Linked DNA regions of Homo sapiens. Changing the gene in region 2 together with the main gene of any one other region gives a genetic interaction. Each region holds a gene or a part of one and is shown on either strand. Other genes may lie near its edges. The genes, in order: CACTIN and PRPF18.

Evidence for each region.
Region 1: changes in PRPF18 (region 2) and CACTIN together harm fitness more than expected from each alone (negative genetic interaction), as found in Homo sapiens cells (one large-scale study listed by BioGRID).

The regions. Positions count from the first base shown.
Region 1 is NC_000019.10:3,610,012-3,613,651, forward strand, and holds the end of CACTIN (splicing factor Cactin), read right to left. Parts: exon of another isoform or gene 3,576-3,640; coding exon 3,453-3,575; exon of another isoform or gene 3,355-3,452; coding exon 3,047-3,354; exon of another isoform or gene 2,774-3,046; intron 2,403-2,773; coding exon 1,912-2,402; 3' UTR 634-1,911; downstream 1-633. UniProt on the Homo sapiens protein: Plays a role in pre-mRNA splicing by facilitating excision of a subset of introns. Required for the splicing of CDCA5/Sororin, a regulator of sister chromatid cohesion. Involved in the regulation of innate immune response.
Region 2 is NC_000010.11:13,624,965-13,628,478, forward strand, and holds part of PRPF18 (pre-mRNA-splicing factor 18), read left to right. Parts: intron 1-3,514.

The DNA.
Region 1 (3,640 bases), on a different chromosome or scaffold from region 2:
TTTGGGATTCTGGAGTAGGCTGGTCAGGGTGGGCCAGGGTCTGCGGTGTGGAGAGCGGACGCTGATCAGATGCACTTCCCTGGCCAGTTCCCAAGCCCTGTGCCACAGACTTCCGGGATCCTGTTAGAGGTGGGGGCTGGGAGGTGACCAGTGCCCCAGGGGAGTGCAGGATCTGCCTTGCACCTCTGCCTACTGCAGTGAGGACATTTGGGGAGGCTCATCCTGGGCACTGAAGCACATTGGGCAGCATCCCTGGCCTCCACTCACTCCACGCCAGGAGCAGCCCCAAGGTGGGACCACCACGAATGCCCCCAGGCATGGCCAAGCGCTGCCCCCATGAGAGCCTGGGCCCAGGCCAGCAGCTGTGTCCACCCTTGTACCCTCCCTCCTGTCGTCTGGGAAATGGACTGTCACCCCCACTGTGGGAGGCAAGGCAGAGGGGTGGGGGGCAAAGACAGATCCGGGCACTAACACAGCTCCCAAGGGACCACCGGGCCCCAGTTGGGTGCCGTGTTGTTTCCCAGGCTCTTCCCTTGGGACAAATGCGCTGTGTCACAAATGCCAGCAGCAACTAGGGCAGCGGGTGTGGGGCGTCGGACACGTTACACTCTCTGCATTTCTGCAAACCTAAGATTATTCTAAAATACAACGTTTATTAAAAAAACATGCGATCTTGCCAATAGGCCAATTCCATGAGAACAAAAGATTTTTTTTCCCACCTACAAGTCTTTTTAGAGAAACAAACGGAACTATTTCCAGATGAGGCGGGGTGTCTGGGAGGGGCTGTGGGTGGTCTGGGGCTGGTGACTGGTGAGGTTGGGTGGCCCTCTGGGGGTCCGGGAGGCACTTTCCGTTTTGCTTCTGTTGGAGATGTTCCCGTCGGATGCTGAAGAACAAGCCTGCCGGCTGGGCCACTCCGACCTGGGCTGTGGCACCCGTGTGGCCCTCGGCCCTCCTGGCCTGAGAAAGGGGAGTGAGAAGGAGCCACTGTCCTGATATGGGCAAAACTCGGGGTCACTGGTCTCATGCTCCAAGGCCCCGTGAGCAGGCCAGGTGGGGGGATCCCTGGGGGAAGCCCCTCACCCTTCTCCAACCCCCAGCCTTCGGGGAGCCCCTGCCCTCCAGGCCCTGTGCTCAGAGGTGGGGGGAGGACGGCTCAGTGACTTTTGGTTCCCACGACCTTGACAGAGACAGGGACCTCGACGCATCCTCCATACCCGCTGCGGGGAAATGGACCCCACCAGCCAGCACGGGGTGAGTTGGGGGCCAGTCCCTGCAGAGTGTGGGTGTCCACAGAGGGTCTCTTCTGCAGTGGCGGATCGGGCGCCAGCAGGGTCCCGGCCTCAGTGCTGCCTGTGCGGGCGAGGGTGGCCTGTGGGCAGGGCTGGAGCTGCCCCACAGCCGCGGGCTCTGCCTCACGCCCAGTGGGTGCCCCGTGATGTGGCAGGGCTGGCCTTGAGTTTCCTGCTTCTCACGAGCCTGGCACCGCCAAGCCCAGGCCCCTCTGGCCCATCTCCACAACACCCTGTGTGGCCGCCACTTGGGGCAGGCCCTGTGGGCCCCACCCAGCCTGGCTGAGGGGCGGTGGAGAGTGTCCGCCTGGACGGTGAGGTCAGCTGGCGGCTGCTGGCCACCCTCGTGCTCGAAAGATGCCCCTAGCGCCCCCTCCGTTGCATCAGGACCCTAGGCCAGCCTGTCCCAGTGTCTCCTCAGCTCACCATGGCAGGCTCAATGGTGACCCCCCTTTTATATAGGAGGAAACTGAGGCCTGGCGAAAGAAAGATGCGGCCTGAGGTGGGACGTGAACCCGCGGCCCTGCAGCCCAGACAGCGGCCCCGGAGTGACCACCAGCTTCACCGAAGCCCCTTTACTGTGCCCCCGAGGACACCTGCCTGCCGTTCCCCAGGGCCGTCACCGCCGATAGCGGTAGCGCTTGAAGTGAAACCACAGCTGGAAGATGCCGTTGGCAAACTGGCAGCGGAAGCCGTGGCGGTGCGAGTATTCCCACTCGCGGTTGACGATCTTGAAAGCGATGTCCTCGTAGGGCGGCCCCGCGTGGAAGCGCAGGATGGCGAAATCCTTGTTGTCGGCGCAGGCCTCCAGGAAGTACTCGGGCGTGGAGCGCTTGTCGATGAGGTCGGGGTAGAAGATGTTGAACTTGTATCCCTGCACGATCTTGGGCGGTGGGTTGTCAAAGTCGTAGTGCGTCTGGTTGTACTTGTTCCACTCGAAGCCCGTGTGCACGCGGTTGAAGAAGCGCGGCTTGCGTGGCCGGTACTTGTCGGCCCACAGGTAGGCCTTGCCGGTGAGTGGCATCTCCACGCTGAACTGCGCCTCGTCCTGGCCCATGCCCTCCTTGGCCCGCCGGAAGAAGATGTCCTCGGCGCTCTCGCTGGCGTCTCCTGCGGGCGGGACGGCGTTCACCCGGGCCTCGGCCTCCCCCTGGGTCCTGGCCTCCCTCCTAGCCTCTCTGGCAGGGGCGGCCGCTGGTGCCTCCCGCAAAAGGAAAACAGGCTGGGGCGAGCTAAGGCACATGGGGAGGGGACAGGGCCTGGGCGACCCGGAGACCCACACCATCCGCCCCGAGCCCCGGACCTTGGTCTTCATGTCTATCGTCCTCCTGGGTGGGGACCAAGCGCAGCGCGCTTCCCCGCCGAGCGACAGGAGAACCTGGTGGTTAGGGCCTGGCTGCGGGATCCAGCCCCACGCATGACCCCCGAGGGGGTCCTGGCCCAGGGGTTTTCTGAAGCCAGTATTTTCTCCTCTGTCTTAGGACGGAGGCTGCCCAGGGAGTGCTCGGACAGCGGCCGGTAAAAGCTTCCACCACCTGTGGCCCCAAGGCCAGTGGGCCAGCAAGCCCAGGATGAATGAAGGAACGCCCCAGTGCGCGTGCAGGTGACGGAATGCACGCTCAGAGACCCGGGGGAGAAGCAGCAAGCAGCTCCCCACTGACGCCAGCGGCTTCGGCCGGGAAATGAGGCTGGAGAAGCCCCGCCCCCAGCTCGCCCCACTGGCCCCACCCCCTGGCCTCCAGCCCCGCCCTTACCCGTGACCTGGAGCTGCTGGCGCGAGAGCTGCAGGCGCTGCAGGTCCTCATCCGGTTCCAGCACGTGCGCGTCCAGTGGCAGCTCGTGCGCCGTGAGCAGCCGCGGGCTGTACCTGCCGGCGTCGTAGTCGTCCAGGCTCTGCTGGATCAGGTCCTCCTCCATGAGCACCGCCTCGCCCTCGCCCTCGCCCTCACCGTCCCCGTCGCCGTCGCCCTCTGTCGGGGTCGCGCCGTCCACCTCGGCCTCCGCGGGGCCGCCCTCCGAGGAGGGCCCGGGCGGGGTGGGCGCCGCGTCCTCAGGCTCCAGGCTGGGAGGAGAGAGCGTTGGAGGCGCGGAGGCTGCCCACGGCCCCTCCATCCTGCTCCGCGTCTGCATCGGCGTCCCCGGGGTGCCGGCCGGGCCTACCTGCGGCTGGGGGACTGGGGCTCCTGCTTGAGGATGGGGAACAGCGGCTCGCTCTCCACGCCCTGCTCCTGCTTCAGTTTGTACAGCTTCTGCCGCAGCACGTCCTGGTGGCGCTCACGCAGCCTGGGACGCAGAGCCGGGGTCACCCGCATGGAGGCGAAGGGGCTCCGCGCCCCACCCCCACCGAG
Region 2 (3,514 bases):
AACACACAGAAAAAAAGACCTTCATAGAAACAGAATTATAGAGAACAGAAAAAAATTTCATTGAGAATGATAATTAATATCCTTAGAGGCCAAGCGTGGTGGCTCATGCCTGTAATCCCACCACTTTAGGAGGCTGAGGTGGGAGGGGTGCTTGAGACCGGGAGTTCTAGACCAGCCTGGGCAAAATAGATCCCTTCTCTACAAAAAATAAAAAATTTAGCTGGACGTGGTGGTGCATGCCTATTCAGGAGGCTGAGGTAGGAGGATTGCTTGAGCCCAGGAGTTTGAGGCTGCAGTGAGCTAGGATCGTGCCACTGCACTCCAGCCTGGGTGACAGACGGGTCTGAAAACAAAACAAACAAAAAAATTCTTAGGTAACGTTGTAGCCATGAAATAAGAACATTAGGCTATAAAAAAGTTTGAGAATCAAAATGAACTCTTAAAAATTAGCAAAAATTTAAATCAGCAAAAATTTAGTAATTACATTAGTGGGTTAGAAGATAAAGTTGAAATATGAAAAGCAGGAAAGGTAAGAAAATAAGAGTCAATCTATAACGTTTATAGCCATTACAACAGAAAAGGGAAGATAGGAAATAAAGAATTAATGTAAGAAAACGTCCCAGACCTGAAGGACGTGAGTTTGTAGAATGAAAAGAATTCACTTAATACAGCGCAAATGAATAGGAAGAGTTCACATCAAGGCACAAAAGAATGCATGTTGGAAGGCCAAAGCTAAAGAGAAGATTTCAAAGACTTCAGAGAAAAGGTCGCTTACAAAGGTGCAGGAATTAAAATACTGTCATACTTCTCACTGATAGCACTAGAAGGTAGAAGACAGTAGAGCAGTACCTTTGCAATAGCTAGGGAAATATTGTCCAACTCAGAATTCTCTTCCTTTCTGAACCATCAAGTGAAGGGTAAATATAGGCTAATGACATCTCCCATGCACACATTCTCTGTAGTCATTATCGTCATAGCTGACACTTAAGTAGTGCTTACTGTGCTTCCCTTCAGTACTTTACAGCCACAATATGAGATGGACACTCACATTTCCCTGTTTTGTAAGTGGGGAAGAGGCGTAGAGAAGTGAGTTCTCAAGGTCACATGGCTAGTCAGTGGTAGAATTGGGATTGGAATGTGGGCAGTCTTGACTCTACCTGAGGATGTCCTCCATCCAAAGAAAAAGATCCAAGAGCTGAGATCCACCACAGAGCAAGGCGAGAGGAATCCCCAGGCTGGAGCTGCAGGGATGTCATGCTCCAGGATGGTAGCAGTACAAGTGGGTCCAGGTTAGAGTAGATGGTTGAAGGACTCCAGGAAGAAATGGAAGAGCTTATATTCCCTGGCATGTCTGATCAGATCCTGAGTGATGTTTGGGCATGTGAGGGTAGTCTCATGTTGGAGAATGGATTAGAAAAACAAAACAAAAAGGGGAAAAAAACTTATGAGAGGTCATCATCATAATATGTTATGTGGGTTTGCTTTGAACGATATTTGTGTAGCCTTTATAAGGAAAACCCTGAATATTGATTTCACTAAAAATGTGGTTTGGGGAGGATGTGGGAGAAAGTGCTTTTGAGGCGTGTGCGTGCATATGTGGGGCCAGTGGACAGTGGTGTAAGAGTGAGATATCCTCTGCTTCATAGTAGGAAGTCAGGAGATATCACTAATATCTGGTGGAAAAACCAAGCACTGTCAGTATAGTATTTAGAAATGTGGCAATAAATGCCAGAGGAAACACTTAAAACGTTTGAAAAGGGTTGCCTGTGGAGAGCTGGAATTAGGATTTGGAAAGAGTGAGGTAGAGGACTGCTATTATTTGATACAAGAATCGTGTGATTTTTTTTTTTTCCCCTCAAACAGTGTACACAGAAAACCCGGAATTATCCTTGGCTTTTTTCTTCCTGTCACAACCCATATCCTATCCATGTCAAAGCTTGATGGTTCTATATTCAAAGTATGTCTGGAGCCCGATCCCTTCTCACCACCTTCCTTGCTGCCACTGGGTCCAGCCACCACCTCTCATCTGAATTATTCCAGTGTCTTCTCTCTGGTCCCTGAGTTTCTCTTATTGCTCCTCTCCAGTTTCTTAGCAGCATTCCCCAGACTGATCCAGTTCACATACAGTCAGATCGTGTTGCTCTGTTGTTCAGAACCCTGCAGGGGCTTCCTAGTTCACAGAGTCCAAGCCAAAGTCCTTCAGGTTGCCCCACACGTCCACTTACCCCACTTGCCTGCTTTATTTTCTCCAAAGCACTTAGCATCGTTGAAAATTTTTTTTTATGAATTTATTTTGTTTCTTGCCTGTCTTCCCTTACCACAATTCGATCTCAGGAGGGTGGGATTTTTTCTGGCTTCTTCGCTACTGTATTTCCAGAGCCTAGAACAGTATGTATAGTAGGCACTGAATAAACATTTGTTAGATAAGGGTATTGCCTTTATATAAATAAAAAGCCAATTAAAAATACCACAAGTTTTTAAGCCATTTGCCATAAGCTAAGCTAAGCAGCTCATTGTTTTACTGGCTTAAGCATCCATAAGCAGTTTGAAACTGAAATCCTGAGGGGTCTAATTGAAAAGATTTGTTTCCATCTGGAAAATAACGATATTCTGTCCTGAGATTACACACCTATCTCTGCCATGCACTCTCAAATCTTTTTTACAAAAATGTATCATACCGCTCTGTGGTAACTACTTATGACTAAAACAATTGAGTTTCACAACCCTTGGCAGCTAAGATTTCAGGGAGAACACTAGTATATGTTTTTAAATCATAGAATCTGCTTAGTGAGTATAAATAGGCATCACACACGTCTTCTGTAAGGAGCACACACCTAAGATTCCAATTCTTCTGACATGGGGAAAACCACCTCCAAGGCAAACCATCAGTTTGCCTTCCGCTTGCGCATAACAATTCTTGCCATGCTCTGCTGCTGAGTGAAGCTATTTGTATTTCATCAGGGTGTTCTCTTGCCTGACTTTGCCCCTCTTCTCACCTATTCCTTCAGGAACCTTAAGATGCCAAATTAGTGCTATCATCTATATTTCCATGGCTACCGATCAAAGTTCTGCATACACATGATTAGAATTCACAGCAGGATAAGCTGGACTATGTGATGGAATGGTCTTTATCCCAAAGCAAATACCTGATTACACAGGGAACAACAACAACAAAAAGGAGCCAAGTGAATGACGTGTGCAAAAGCCCTTCTTGTGAATCAGTTGAAAGATAACCTCCCTCCACACCCCTAATTCCTAAATCTCATAATGTGGGCAATCCTTGAATCCACCAAGGACTTTAAATACTTCACAGTCTTGTTTCTCTGATGTGGAATCTGTTAGATTATGGCTCCATTCATAGAAGTATGTCATTTGTCCCTTAATATCCTCAGGGATTGGTTCCAGGACCCTGCAGATACCAAAATCTGGATGCTCAAGTCCCTGATAGAAAATGACATAGTATTTGCATATAATCTATGCACATCCTCCTGTATACTTTAAATCATCTCTAGAT